Linked DNA regions of Homo sapiens. The protein of the gene in region 1 purifies or fractionates together with the protein of each later gene. This does not show direct contact. Each region holds a gene or a part of one and is shown in the gene's direction. Other genes may lie near its edges.

The links.
Region 2: the proteins of GTF2E2 (region 1) and MCTS1 purify together in Homo sapiens (affinity purification with mass spectrometry; 2 studies listed by BioGRID and IntAct, with this or other methods). This does not show direct contact.
Region 3: the proteins of GTF2E2 (region 1) and UBLCP1 purify together in Homo sapiens (affinity purification with mass spectrometry; 2 studies listed by BioGRID and IntAct, with this or other methods). This does not show direct contact.
Region 4: the proteins of GTF2E2 (region 1) and SBDS purify together in Homo sapiens (affinity purification with mass spectrometry; 2 studies listed by BioGRID and IntAct, with this or other methods). This does not show direct contact.

What each region holds. Positions count from the first base shown.
Region 1 is NC_000008.11:30,606,223-30,609,847, reverse strand, and holds part of GTF2E2 (transcription initiation factor IIE subunit beta), read left to right. Parts: intron 1-2,697; coding exon 2,698-2,791; intron 2,792-3,625. UniProt on the Homo sapiens protein: Recruits TFIIH to the initiation complex and stimulates the RNA polymerase II C-terminal domain kinase and DNA-dependent ATPase activities of TFIIH. Both TFIIH and TFIIE are required for promoter clearance by RNA polymerase.
Region 2 is NC_000023.11:120,617,548-120,621,172, forward strand, and holds the end of MCTS1 (malignant T-cell-amplified sequence 1), read left to right. Parts: 3' UTR 1-3,612; downstream 3,613-3,625. UniProt on the Homo sapiens protein: Translation regulator forming a complex with DENR to promote translation reinitiation.
Region 3 is NC_000005.10:159,266,237-159,269,861, forward strand, and holds part of UBLCP1 (ubiquitin-like domain-containing CTD phosphatase 1), read left to right. Parts: intron 1-2,633; 5' UTR 2,634-2,679; coding exon 2,680-2,833; intron 2,834-3,625. UniProt on the Homo sapiens protein: Dephosphorylates 26S nuclear proteasomes, thereby decreasing their proteolytic activity. Recruited to the 19S regulatory particle of the 26S proteasome through its interaction with 19S component PSMD2/RPN1.
Region 4 is NC_000007.14:66,989,812-66,992,639, reverse strand, and holds part of SBDS (ribosome maturation protein SBDS), read left to right. Parts: intron 1-1,338; coding exon 1,339-1,503; intron 1,504-2,828. UniProt on the Homo sapiens protein: Required for the assembly of mature ribosomes and ribosome biogenesis.

The sequences.
Region 1 (3,625 bases):
CCACACACTTTTAAATGACCAGATCTCATGAGAACTCATTATCAGGAGAACAGCACCAAGAGGGAAATCCACCTTCATACCAGTCACCGCCCACCAGGCCCCACCTCCAACATTGGGGATTACAGTTTGACATGAGATTTGATGGGGACACAGATCTAAACCATTTCAGGCTTTTTGAGGTCCCTTGAGATTTGATATAAATTTTTGGATGGATTTTTCCATTTCTGCAAAAAATGCCATTGGGATTTTGATAGGGATTACCTTGAATAGGTAACTTTGGGTAGTATTGCCATCGTAACTGTATTAAGTTTTTTAATACATGAGCACAGAATTCATTTATTCATGTCTTTAATTTTTTTTAGCAATGCCTTCAGGTTCTTTCATTTATTTTATGTATGTACAATTTGACTGTCCCTTATCTGTAATGCTTGGGACCAGAACTGTTTCAGATTTTGGGATTTTTTTCAAATTTTGGGATATTTTCATTATACCAGTTTAAACATTCCAGAGTTGAAAATCTGAAATCCAAAATGCTCCAGTGAGTATTTCTTTCTTTCTTTCTTTCTCTTTTTTTTTTTTTTTGAGGCGGAGTCTCTTTCTGTTGCCCTGGCTGGTGTGCAGTGGGGTGATCTCAGCTCACTGCAACCTCTGTCTCCTTGGTTTAAGAGATTCTCCTGTCTCAGCCTCCCAAGTAGCTGGGATTACAGACACCTGCCACCGTGTTCAGCTAATTTTTCTATTTTTAGTAGAGATGGGGTTTCACCATGTTGACCAGGCTGGTCTCAAAACTCCTGACCTCGGCCGAGTGCAGTGGCTCACGCCTGTAATCCCAGCACTTTGGGAGGCCGAGGCGGGTGGATCACGAGGTCAGGAGATTGAGACCGTCCTGGCTAACATGGTGAAACGCTGTCTCTACTAAAAAGTACAAAAAATTAGCCGGGCGTGGTGGCGGGCACCTGTAGTCCCAGCTACTCGGGAGGCTGAGGCAGGAGAATGGCGTGAGCCACCGTGCGGAGCTTGCAGTGAGCCAAGATCGCGTCACTGCACTCCAGCCTGGTTGACAGAGTGAGACTCCGTCTCAAAACAAACAAACTCCTGACCCCAAATGATCCTCCTGCCTCCCAAAGTGCTGGGATTATAGGTGTGAGCCATCACACCTGGCCCCCAGTAAGTATTTCTTTGGCATGTCATGTCAGCACTTAAAAAGTTTTGGATTTTGGATTCGAGATTTTGGGATTTGGGTTGCTCATCCTGTAGTTATCACCTTTTACCACCTTGATCTAGTGGACTATTATTTTTAAGCTACTTTAAGTCATTTTATGAATAATTTACATAAGTAAGAATAATGGGATGATGAAAACAGCTTTATTAGAGATTTTAGTAAGAATTTAACACAGCAAACTTCTGTATCAAGTAATTTTTGGAAAACACATCAAAAAGAAGAATACTGTCATATATCCTTTTAGCAAAGTGAGATGATAAAGATTCTTTTCACAAAATACTGTGTGATAATCTTCTGGTGAATAACGGGATGAGAATATTGTTTCCATTTTGTATTGAGAAGCATTTTGTTCGCTTGTTGATTCTTAAGCTTGAGAATCTTCACTTGAGTTATTGTCATCTAAAGACTCCATAGCTTGAGACTTTATTCCTATGATGAATTTTTGCCAGATAGTCTAGAGTGCTGCTATTTGGCTTTTTGCATTCATATTTTGATTCATCTAATAATTGTGAAATGTCTTTGGTCAGTTTTCTTGTCTTTGCTCTCAAGGGTAGAAAATACAAAATTTTTTTTGTCAGGTGTACTCAATGAAAGTTAAAAGACAACAAGAAGACTCTTCCAATCTTTTATATCTCTTGAAAAGGAGTAATGTAATCCTTTGGGCAATGCAGTAAGAAAACTGAAGGATGCCCATGTATTTCACTATTGCATCACATTTCTAGGTGATTTAATCATTCTTCTATTTTCTTATTATTTTAGCGTTTTAAAAGCACAATTGGAAATAATTGATGGGTAATGATGAGTAAGGAGCGAAATATCTCAAGGTAGAGGAAAAGTAAGAACACCAAGATTCTATTATGTGTCTTAGATTAGTGAAAGAGCCCCATGGACCCAAATAGTAATTGCAGCAAAGATTGAATTTTCCGTTTTAAGTGAAACACGTTTTATTTTTGTTCTTTGGAAGACCTCTAAGAATACAAGTCTGGAAATATCAATTTTTAAAAAATTGAACTACTCAAGAAAGAAACTCAAAAACTAAAATTGGGGCTGAGTGCAGTGGCTCACACCTATAGTCCCTGTACTTTCTGATGCTGAGGTGGGAAGATCGCTTGAGCCCAGGAGTTCAAGACCAGCCCTGGCAACATAGTGAGACCCTTTGTCTACAAAAAATTGAAAACATTAGCTAGACGTGGTGGCAATGCACCAGTGGTCCCAGTTACTCCAGAGGCTGAGGTGGGAGGATTGCTTGAGCCTGGGAGGTTGAGGCTGCAGTGAGCTGCACTCCAGTCTGGGTGGAGTCTCTTAAAAACAAAACTAAAACTAAAATTGGGTCCAGTGGACCTATGGTGGAGGACCCTATGGTGGTATACTGAGTGTGTTAAGGAAATGAAACTCCTTTATTGTTTAAATTTTTTTTTTTTTTGGTGAGGTAATTTGGAGTTAACTGAAAAATCTTTATTTTATCTATCTTTAAGGCTTTGGGGGACCAGATACTATTTGTAAATCGTCCCGATAAGAAGAAAATACTTTTCTTCAATGATAAGAGCTGTCAGTTTTCTGTGGATGAAGGTGAGCTTTTCTGTATTATACTTTAGTTTGCAAGTATATTACAATTTTAGGGTGGTAAAATTAATATTTATAATACAATTATAATTTAAATCTTATATTGCTTTTTTAGCATTATCATTTCTTAGAACACAGCCAGTGGCCCCTGTGTCTAACATATTGTTGCTTAGAATGCAATTTGAAATATGTGATTTGAAAGATTTTAGGTTAATTATACTTACAATCGCAGTTCAGGATTTCTTAATGTTTATAGCTCAACTGAACCAAACGGGTTTATTTCTTTATCTTTAGACTTTTACAAATGTAAGTTCATATCCTGATACAAAAGCTTGATACAGGATGGGAAAAAGAATAAACTTTTATTGGTGAATAGTGTTCTCTTATCTTATGAATCTTTCAGTTATCAAATTGAATAAGGAAGGAGATGATGTTTTTCTTTCTGGAAATTGTGGAGTTGGATGCTAAGCTGTATATTGAATCTCTTACTAAGTATATGATACGTATGTTTGGACTTTAGTTTTAAATTTTTGTCAATAATTTGTCATTAAACAAGGGTTTAGTGATGAAAAATGTATTATTCAAGTTTACCAATTGCCATTTTAGCAAGTGTTGGTGGTATTTTACTGTAAATTTGTATTACTTTTGAAGTTTTATAAAATGGCAGGAAAATAATTGGACATCAATTTAATTGATTTTGTGATTTGTGCAGTAACCTTAAGTTTTCCTTTTGTTATCTGTCTATAGATATCCAGGCTTGTGGTTCTGGTAGATAGGGCTTTAGTTTCCCTGAACTTGTTTTAGGAAATTGTATTTTTGTGAAAATCCCAATTGAGTATC
Region 2 (3,625 bases), on another chromosome or scaffold:
CAAATGTTATTGCTCTTCATTTCATTCTCCAATTTTAAAATGCTTTACTTTCAGCCAATATGTGAATATAGGAGACTTCAAAAGCATAATCAATTACTCCCTTAAAGTTCATTGTAAGTGTTCTCAGAACTCTACCACCTAGAATTTAAAGACGGGAAGATTTACTTTATAATTTTAATTTCTTATCACAAGACTCGATTGTCAATAACTGTTAACGTCCATTTAATAATCTATGGTGAAATAGGTAATTTCTTCTTATTTTCACAAGCGTGTGAGTAAAAGACTGGGTTTTAAGCAATAAATCATTTGTTCTAACTAAGCACATGCTTGGAAAAAGTGCTATTTTTCCAAACGTATGCCTTGAAAACAAATACAATTCAATTGCCTTTTTGGTTCATGGGAAGCCATACTGCGGTGGCTTCCAAGGTTGGCCAACCTGTTTTTATTCTTACCACCTCTTTCAAAAAGGGATGTTGTCTTTGTCCCCAAATTCTGGTGTTGTCCTATGCTGATGCATAATGAAGCCCTGAGGCTTGGAAACTTGCAAACCAATAAGATGATTTAATGATGAAACGGCATGTCAGTTTGACACTGTCTATTAATAGTCCTTGAGTGAGCTTAAATTTGAGACACTTTTAAAAGCGGCATGTAGTTCCAGTTTTGCTTCCCTTATCAGTGGAGCTTGAGATGTCTGTTCCTGCCGACTGATGTTTTAACAAATTTTTAGTTTCTCATGATGTGAAAGATTTTGTATGCACGTCTTAGTCTGGATACTGTTTTCATTAGTTCTAATGCTGCTGCATGCAAATTTTGTTTAAAACCAAAATTGACTCTTCACATCTGGACTAGATTGGACATGGTGAGGAGGCTGGAAGGAAAGTCCTTTTTGCTCTGTAGGCTCTGGACAGCTTTCTTAGAGTTGACTTATCCAGGATTAAGAAAAAGTTTTCTTTTGCGTGACTAAATTCTTTCCACAGTTTGCTTGTGTAAGCATTTTAGATTTAAGCAAGTTCAACTTGAAATATATTTGAATATGAAGTAGAAACAGCTTCATTTAATGGGATAATAGCAATCTCTAACCCATCAAATTAATATCTACTAAATAGCTTCCAAAAAGCACTGACTGGAAAATATTTTTCACTATCATGGCTTTATTCAGTTTCAAAAACAGTAGGGGCTAAAATGTTTGGACATTTATCCTGCATTTATTTTGTGTTTCACAAGGTTAAAATTTTGTATTTTGTAAAGTGTCTGAAAAGGAGTCCACAAAGTATTTCTGCTTTCTTGCTCCTGAATGCAAAGGTCTGAGAGAAGGCACATCCTCATTAGCTTCTGGGTGTTGTCAAACCCAATCCTCTCTCAAGTACCAAATGCCCAGATACATTTATTGGGATGCAGGAATCTCACTTAAGTAGCGGTTTTTGCTGATATAAAGACAAACATCTTGATTAAAGTGTAGGGAGATAGAAACTATACCAATTTGGGCAATTTTGGCTCTAATGTCTAATTTGTTGTGAAAGGGGAAGATGTTCTAAGCTAATGTTCTTAAAAGTAACTTATGAATTTCTTAAAAATAGTTTTTAAAAAGCTGTTTCAGGAAAAGCTGTTTTATTGCATGGCACAGATTAAATGTACAGATGTTATCTTAAAACAATGAAAGAGTTCCCCTAATTTGAATATTCAATACCAGCTGTTATTCACATCAATATTTTAACATTTTACCATCAAGATATTTAATACAAAGGATTGATACATATTTAACTGTTTAGAATTCTAGTTAAACTTGTCCAGATGAGTAAGAGGGAAGGAGAAATAACATTCTCCAAGTACCTACCATGTGCACAAGCTCTACTTATATATCTTGCTTAATCTTAGCAATGATTCCATGAGGTAGATTTTAACTCTCATTTTACAAACGAGGAGACTAAGGCTCAGAGAGGTCATACAACTTCAGGAAAGTTGTATGACCTCTCTGAGGTAATAAATGGCAGAACTGGAATTTGAACCTAAGTCTCCTTGTCTGCAAATCCTGTGTTTTGCAGAAAACTCTCCTCTTGTATTTCATAAAATGTTAAATCTTGGCCCAAATTCAAATCACCATCTTTATGGGTTATTGGAGAGAGGTATAAGTTGGCAAGACTCTGTTCCACGATGGGAAAAAATGGGTAGGATTTGAATGAGTAAGAGTGGGATACTTGCACAGTATCATATTTGTGTGGCTGGAGTAATGTTTTTCTGTTTCCCTCTTAGCAAAGTGGAGTGGGAGAATCTTGAAATTGAACTCAGTCCTGAGGTCTGATTTTCCTATTATTAGTCACTTTCAAGCCAGGTGATTTGTGACCATTTAAATGTTATGCTATTTCAAAGTCTTCTACATCTTTAGAAAAGGACATGAGGGAGGGTTAGTTAAGTGGGGCAATGAGAATGTAGAGTGTAATGTGCAAAAGCAGGACTAGCAGTTGCTTTGAAGATATCTGGGGAAGGCCGGGCACGGTGGTTCACGCCTGTAATCCCAGTACTTTGGGAGGCCAAGGTGGGCGGATCACGAGGTCAGGAGATCGAGACCATCCTGGCTAACGTGAAACCCCGTCTATACTAAAAATACAAAAAATTAACCGGACGCAGTGGTGGGCGCCTGTAGTCCCAGCTACTCGGGAGGCTGAGGCAGGAGAGTGGCATGAACCCGGGAGGCGGAGCTTGCAGTGAGCTGAGATCGCACCACTGCATTCCAGCCTGGACAACAGAGCGAAACTCCGTCTCAAAAACCAACCAAACAAAAAACAAAAATTAGCTGGGCATGGTGGCGCGTGCCTGTAATCCCAGCACTTTGGGAGCCAAGGTGGGTGGATCATGAGGTCAGAAGATTGAGACCACCCTGGCCAACATGGTGAAATCCTGTCTCTACTAAAAATACAAAAAAAAAAAAAAAAAAAAAAATTAGCCGGGCGTGGTGGCGCGTGCCTGTAATCCCAGCTACACAGGAGGCTGAGGCAGGAGATTTGCTTGAACCTGGGAGGCGGAGGTTGCAGTGAGCCGAGATTGTGCCACTGCACTCCAGCCTGGGCGACAGAGCAAGACTCCGTCTAAAAAAAAAAAAAAGATATTAAAATTAATGACAGGAAGAGTTTGGGTTCAGTTATAATTTAAGGGAAAAAACATTGAGGGGCCTAATCTACATTTTGCTCCGGATCCAATGATTTAATTTTTGGGAAGAAAAATCCAGTGATTAAAGTCATGCAAGGAGATGGCCTGGGGCTTGCTAAAAGTCAGGTTGCAGTTTCCATTGCATTCAAGAAAATCAGAAAAATAAATACAACTTTTAGAAGAAACTAAGTTTTCTCCCATTCATGTTTAGCTATTGGGGGGTCTCATACTTCTGGACTTGCTTAGACCTATGCTATCTAATATGGTAGCCTCTGCCCATCCATATGTGGCCACTGAGAACTTGAAATGTGACTAGTTTGAATTAAGATGTGCTGTAACTAAAATACACCCTGGATTTCAAAGACTTAATAAATAATGTAAATTATCTATTCTTTCCTGTTGATTATATATTGAAATGATAATATTTTGGATATGTTTGGGTTAAATAAAATATATTACTAAAAGTAATTTCACCTGTGTC
Region 3 (3,625 bases), on another chromosome or scaffold:
GGTCTCAGATGGAAATGAGGAACTTGTTGGGAACTGGAGTAAAAGTGACTCTTGTTATGTATTAGCAAAGGTACTGGCAACATTTTGCCCCTGCCCTAGAGATTTGTGGAACTTTGAACTTCAGAAAGATGATTTAGGGTATCTGGCAGAAGAAATTTCTAAGCAGCAAAGCACTCAAGAGGTGATTTGGGTACTGTTAAAGGCACTCAGTTTTATAAGGGAAGCAGAGCATAGAAGTTTGGAAAATTAGCAGCCTGACTATGCAGTAGAAAAGAAAAACGCATTTTCTGTGGAGAAATTCAAGCTGGCTGCAGAAATCTGCGTAAGTATCAAGGAGCCTAATGTTAATCCCCTAGACCGTGGGGAAAATGTCTCCAGGCTATGTCAAAGACCTTCATGGCAGCCCCTCCCAGCACAGGCCCGGAGGCCCAGGAAGGAAAAAAGGTTTCGTGGGCCCGGCCCAGGGTCCCCGCGCTGTGTGCAGCCTAGGGACTTGGTGCCCTGTATCCCAGCCACTCCAGCCATGGCTGAAAGGGGCCAACTTACAGCTTGGGCTGTGGCTTCAGAGGGTGGAAGCCTCAAGCCTTGGTAGCTTCCATATGGTGTTGAGCCTGTGGGTACACAGAAGTCAAGAATTGAGGTTTGGGAACCTGTGCCTAGATTTCAGAAGATATATGGAAACTCTTGGACGCCCTGGCAAAAGTTTGCTGCAGGGGTGGGGCCCTCATGGGGAACTTCTGCTAGGACAGTGTGGAAGGGAATTGTGGGGTCAGAGCCCCCATACAGAGTCCCTACTGGGGCACTGCCTAGTGGAGCTGAGAGAAGAGGGCCACCACCCTCCAGGCCCCAGAATGGCAGATCTGACAACAGCTTGTACTGTGTGCCTGGAAAATCCACAGACACTCAATGCCAGCCCGTGAAAGCAGCTGGGAGGGAGGGTTTACCTTGCAAAGCCACAGGGGTGGAGCTATCCAAGACCATAGGAACCCACCTCTTGCATCAGTGTGACCTGGATGTGAGATCTGGAGTCAAAGGAGATCATTTCGGAGCTTTAACATTTGACTGCCCCGCTGGATTTCGGACTTGCATGGGCCCTGTAACCCCTTTGTTTTGGCCAATTTCTCCCATTTGGAATGGCTATATTTACTCAATACCTGTACCCCCATTATACCTAGGAAGTAAATAGCTTTCTTTTGATTTTACAGGCTCATAGGCAGAAAGGACTTAACTTGTCTTAGATGAGACTTTGGACTGTGGACTTTTGAGTTAATGCTGAAATGAATTAAGACTTTGGGGGACTGTTGGGAAGGCATGATTGGTTTTGAAATGTGAGGACATGAGATTTGGAGGGGCCAGGGGCAGAATGGTACAGTTTGACTGTGTGCCCACCAAAATCTCAACTTGAATGATATCTCCCATAATTCCTATGTGTTATGAGAGGGACCCAGGGGAAGGTAATTGAATCTTGGGGGGTGGTCTTTCCCATGCTATTCTCATGACAATGAATAAGTCTCATGAGATCTGATGGGTTTATCAGGGGTTTCCGCTTTTGCTTCTTCCTCATTCTGTCTTGCCACTGCCATGTAAGAAGTGCTTTTTGCCTTCCACCATGATTCTGAGGCCTCCCCAGCCATTCTGCAACTGTAAAGTCCAATTAAACCTCTTTCTCTTCCCAGTCTTGGGTATGTCTTTATTGGCAGTGTGAAAACAGACTAATACACTGATCTTTGATGCCTTAACTCTTGTATGTTCAACTGAAGAGATACAATTGTGGAGGAGAAGAAACATAAGATTTAGTCAGAAGACCTGTTCTGTAACTAGCTATGTGTCTATGTACAGATTGTATAGCCTCTCAAAACTCCTGTTTCCTTAATTGTAAAAGAGGGAAAACTTACCAAATTACTTTCTCTAATGAGATTGTGTAAAAACTTCAATTCATAAAATATGAAACAAAGAATGGCTATTTACTATTTATTTAGCACAGTGCCTGCCTGGAACATAGTAAGCTTTTAGTTTAAAAAGATTTTTGTTTAACCAATACTTAATTTATGTAGTGTTTACTAGGTGCCAGGCACTATGTACCTTGTAAATGTTAATTAAGTTAATCCTCATAAAAGCCCTAAGAAGTAGGTAGTATCATCATCCCTATTTTACAGATGAGGAAACCTAGACACTGAGAGTCAAGTAACTTCTCAAAGTCAGATGGCTAAGTGGGAGAGATCTGGGATCTGAACCCAGGTCATCTGGCTCTAGAATCTGTGTTCTTAACTACACCACACTACCTTTCAAATGTTAAATGAACATGGATGGTCTGTCAGGGAAGGACTTGCTTGTAGCATCAACCTGACCAAATAGAACAGGAGGAATGGTAGCTCATAATTGCACATTTCCAGTTGAACAGTGAGACTCAGAGTATTAGAAAGTAGTAACTCTAAGCCAAAAATTAGGAGTGTGGGGGAATTTAACTTTGAGTCCTAGTATCTTTTGGTGTTCTGGTAGCACTCCTGTATGGACAAAAATCCTCTCTATCATAAGTTGTAAAATAAGGCTTAAACTGTACACATAAAACTTAAAAGTTTGGCTTCAATAAACAGTATCTATTTTAACTTGTTCATTTTTGTCTTCCTTTCCAGGTATTTTTTTTTCTGAAGGAAAGCTGCTTCCTCATATGTTTCAAGAATGGCTCTCCCTATCATTGTAAAATGGGGTGGACAGGAGTATTCAGTGACCACACTTTCAGAAGATGATACTGTGCTCGATCTCAAACAGTTTCTCAAGACCCTTACAGGAGTTCTTCCAGAACGCCAAAAGTTACTTGGACTCAAAGTTAAAGGTAATTCTCTCCCCTCTTCAGATTTTTTGCATTGAATTTTTAGTATTATGAATTTTAATAATTATTTTGAATATAATTGTTTAATAATTTATACTTGCTATTTGTAGTTTAGTAAGTCTCTCCCTTTCGAGATTTCTCTGGTAGAAATATTCTTAAAATTGTTTTAGTGGTAAAAGTAAGAATATTAAAGTGTTCTCGAAAATACCATGATTATTAAGATTACTTTTGATGTTTTAGACAGTCAGTATTTGCTTGTTAAACCTTTGGCACAGAAGTCCCGGATGAAACTCATTTATTTTCTGACATCTACCTTTTAGCACAGTGTTTCGTTGTAACGAGGGCCTCGTACTCTTCCCAAATTATCTTTTCTGTTTCAAAAGTAAAGACAACATTTAAAAATTACAGGCAGCATTCATATCCAGTTTAAAAGGGATTTTTTTTATGGTGTTTTGTGATTATCATATTGAAGAGTGAGTTTTGAGTAACAGTAAATCTGCAGTTTTCTTAGGCACTCAATTTTTAAGGCTTCCTGGAAAACAGTAATATTCATCTTGAACAACAGAATAAAACATGAATTAATTTTGTTTAGGTAGTTGAATAAAGGTGTTCATCTAACATAGAATTGGGGAGAAAATAACCCTTGTATTAATTTTGACTTCTTCGTGTCTTAGATATGACTAATTCAGCAGAAACAATTTGTTAATGTAGGAAAAAACAAAACAACAAAAATTGCTGTGACATCTGTACCAAACCTTTTAATGTTAGGGTTTTATATAATGGAATAGTGAAACC
Region 4 (2,828 bases), on another chromosome or scaffold:
GAAAAGGACGGGGTTGTAAAGATAGGTAATTTTTTTTTTTCAAGTAAACACAAATATGTATATAGGACTTTCTTCTTCCTATCCAAATCAAACTTTTAAAGACAAAACTTGAGTTTTTAAAGGGTCATTTTAACACTTCTTTTTGAATTTTTTAATTTATATATAATTCACATACCATAAATTTCACACTCATAAAGTATGTACACTTTAAGTGGTATATTAACAAAGTTTTGGAACCTTCCCTGCTACCTGGTTCGAGAACATTTTCATCACCACAAAAAGAAAGTCAGTATCCATTAGTAGCCATCCCCCATTTTCCCCCCACAGGCCCCTCCCAACCACTAATCTCCTCTCGTTATGGACTTCTCAATTCTGGACATTTCATATAAATGGAATCATACAATATGTGGCCTTTTCATGGTTCATACATGTTGTAACCTGCATCAGCATGTCATTTCTTTTTTATGCCGGAATAATAGCCCACTGTACGGAAAGAAACACATTTTGTTCATTCATCTATCAGTTGATAGACATTGGGTTGCTTTCACTTTTGAGCTATGATGAGCAATGCTGCTATAAAATTTCTTGTATGTTTCTGTGTAGACATATGTTTTCATTTCTGTATACCTGGTGACTACCAAACCTATTTCTAAAACAGCTGCACCATTTTACTTTACCACCATCAGTGTTTAAGAGTTCAGTTTCTCCACATCCTCAGTAATACTTGTCATTGTCTGCCTTTTTGATGATGGCCATCCTGGTGGTATCTTGTCGTGGTTTTGATTTGCATTTCCTTAATGATGATTTGAGCATATTTCCATGTGCTTATTGGTGCCTCGTCTGTCTTCTTTTGAGAAATCTCTGTTCAGGTTCTTTGCCCACCCCCCCCGCCCTCTTTTTGCAAACTCTGCCTCCCGGATTCAAGCAATTCTCCTGCCTCAGCCTCTTGAGTAGCTGGGATTACAGGCGTGCACTACCACACCCGGCTAATTTTTCTTTTTTTGTATTTTTAGTGGAGACGGGGTTTCACCATGTTGGCCAGGCTGGTCTCGAATTCCTGACCTTGTGATGCACCCGCCTCGGCCTCCCAAAGTGCTGGAATTACAGGCGTGAGCCACCACACCTGGCCTTCACTTTCTTCATAGTTTTTTGAAACACAAAAGCTTTTCTTCTTGATAAGTCCAATTTTTCTATTTTTTTTTTAACGGTCACTTATGTTCTTAATGTTATACCTAAGAAACCATTACCTAATCCAACTACATGGAAACTACTTTGTTTTTGAAAACCTTATGAAATAATATAGTAGAAGAAATTGCATTCTCGATTTTGTCTTGGTAGGCTTTGGAAGTGATAAAGCAGTTAAAAGAGAAAATGAAGATAGAACGTGCTCACATGAGGCTTCGGTTCATCCTTCCAGTCAATGAAGGCAAGAAGCTGAAAGAAAAGCTCAAGCCACTGATCAAGGTCATAGAAAGTGAAGATTATGGCCAACAGTTAGAAATCGTAAGAGTCAAATATTTTCTTTGCTTCATGTTACCTAAATATTGTATTCTCTAGTAATAAATTTGTAGCAAACATTTAGATGTTGTAAACGTCAGATATTTTCTTTTCTTTTTTTTTTTTGAGATGGAGTCTCGCTCTGTTGCCCAGGCTGGAGTGCAGTGGTGCTATCTCAGCTCACTGCAAGCTCCGCCTCCCGGGTACACGCCATTCTCCTGCCTCAGCCTCCTGTGTAGCTGGGACTACAGGCACCCGCCACCAAGCCTGGCTAATTTTTCGTATTTTTTAGTAGAGACGGAGTTTCACCGTGTTAGCCAGGACGGTCTTGATCTCCTGACCTCATGATCCACCTGCCTCAGCCTCCCAAAGTGCAGGGATTACAGGCGTGAGCCACCGCGCCCAGCCAGATATTTTCTTAAGACTAAAGGTTGGTCAGCCTTGTTTACCACAAATCCTTTTATTTTTTTCCCAGCATTTATTTTTGTCATATATTATGCGTAGTGTTTTAGATACATGATTTTAGCAAATTTAGCAACTATTTAAAATAAGCCACTTAAAAATTGCTATTTTAGTGGAAGATTGATAATTCCAATTACCTTAAAAATTTTGCAAAAATTAGTACAAAGCACACTATGGAAATTTACATTGAGTTTTCAGAGATAGCTCAATTGCATGCTTTACTCCAGTGCTGATCATAATCCTAAAAGACAATCCCAAATGCCACAATCCCAATGTTGAAATCATAAAAAAATCAAAATCTCTAAAGTCCAAAGCCTGAACTTCTAATATCTTGAAAATCACAGTTCCAAAAGATTGAATCCTGGCTGGGCGCGGTGGCTCATGCCTGTAATCCCAGCACTTTGGGAGGCCAAGGCAGGTGGATCACCTGAGGTCGGGAGTTCGAGACCAGTCTGACCAACATGGAGAAACCCTGTCTCTACTAAAAATACAAAATAGTCTGGCGTGGTGGCACATGCCTGTAATCCCAGCTACTCGGGAGGCTGAGGCAGGAGAATCACTTGAACCTGGAAGGCAGAGGTTGCGGTGAGCCAAGATTGCACCATTGCACTCCAGCCTGGGCAACAAGAGCGAAACTCCATCTCAAAAAAAAAAAAAAAAGATTGAATTCTGAATGATGAAATTCTGAAAGCTGAATTCTGGCAAAAGGATTAGCACTCTTTGAGTTGTATGCAGGATAGTCGCGTCTGGTTAATTGCATCATGTGAGGAAAAGCTAGGACCTTGTTATTGTCTTCATTTGAAAATTAAAAATGGTTTAAAGAGATGAGTCTGGGTGCCAAGTTGATAAGGGGTGGAATTGTGGATGTA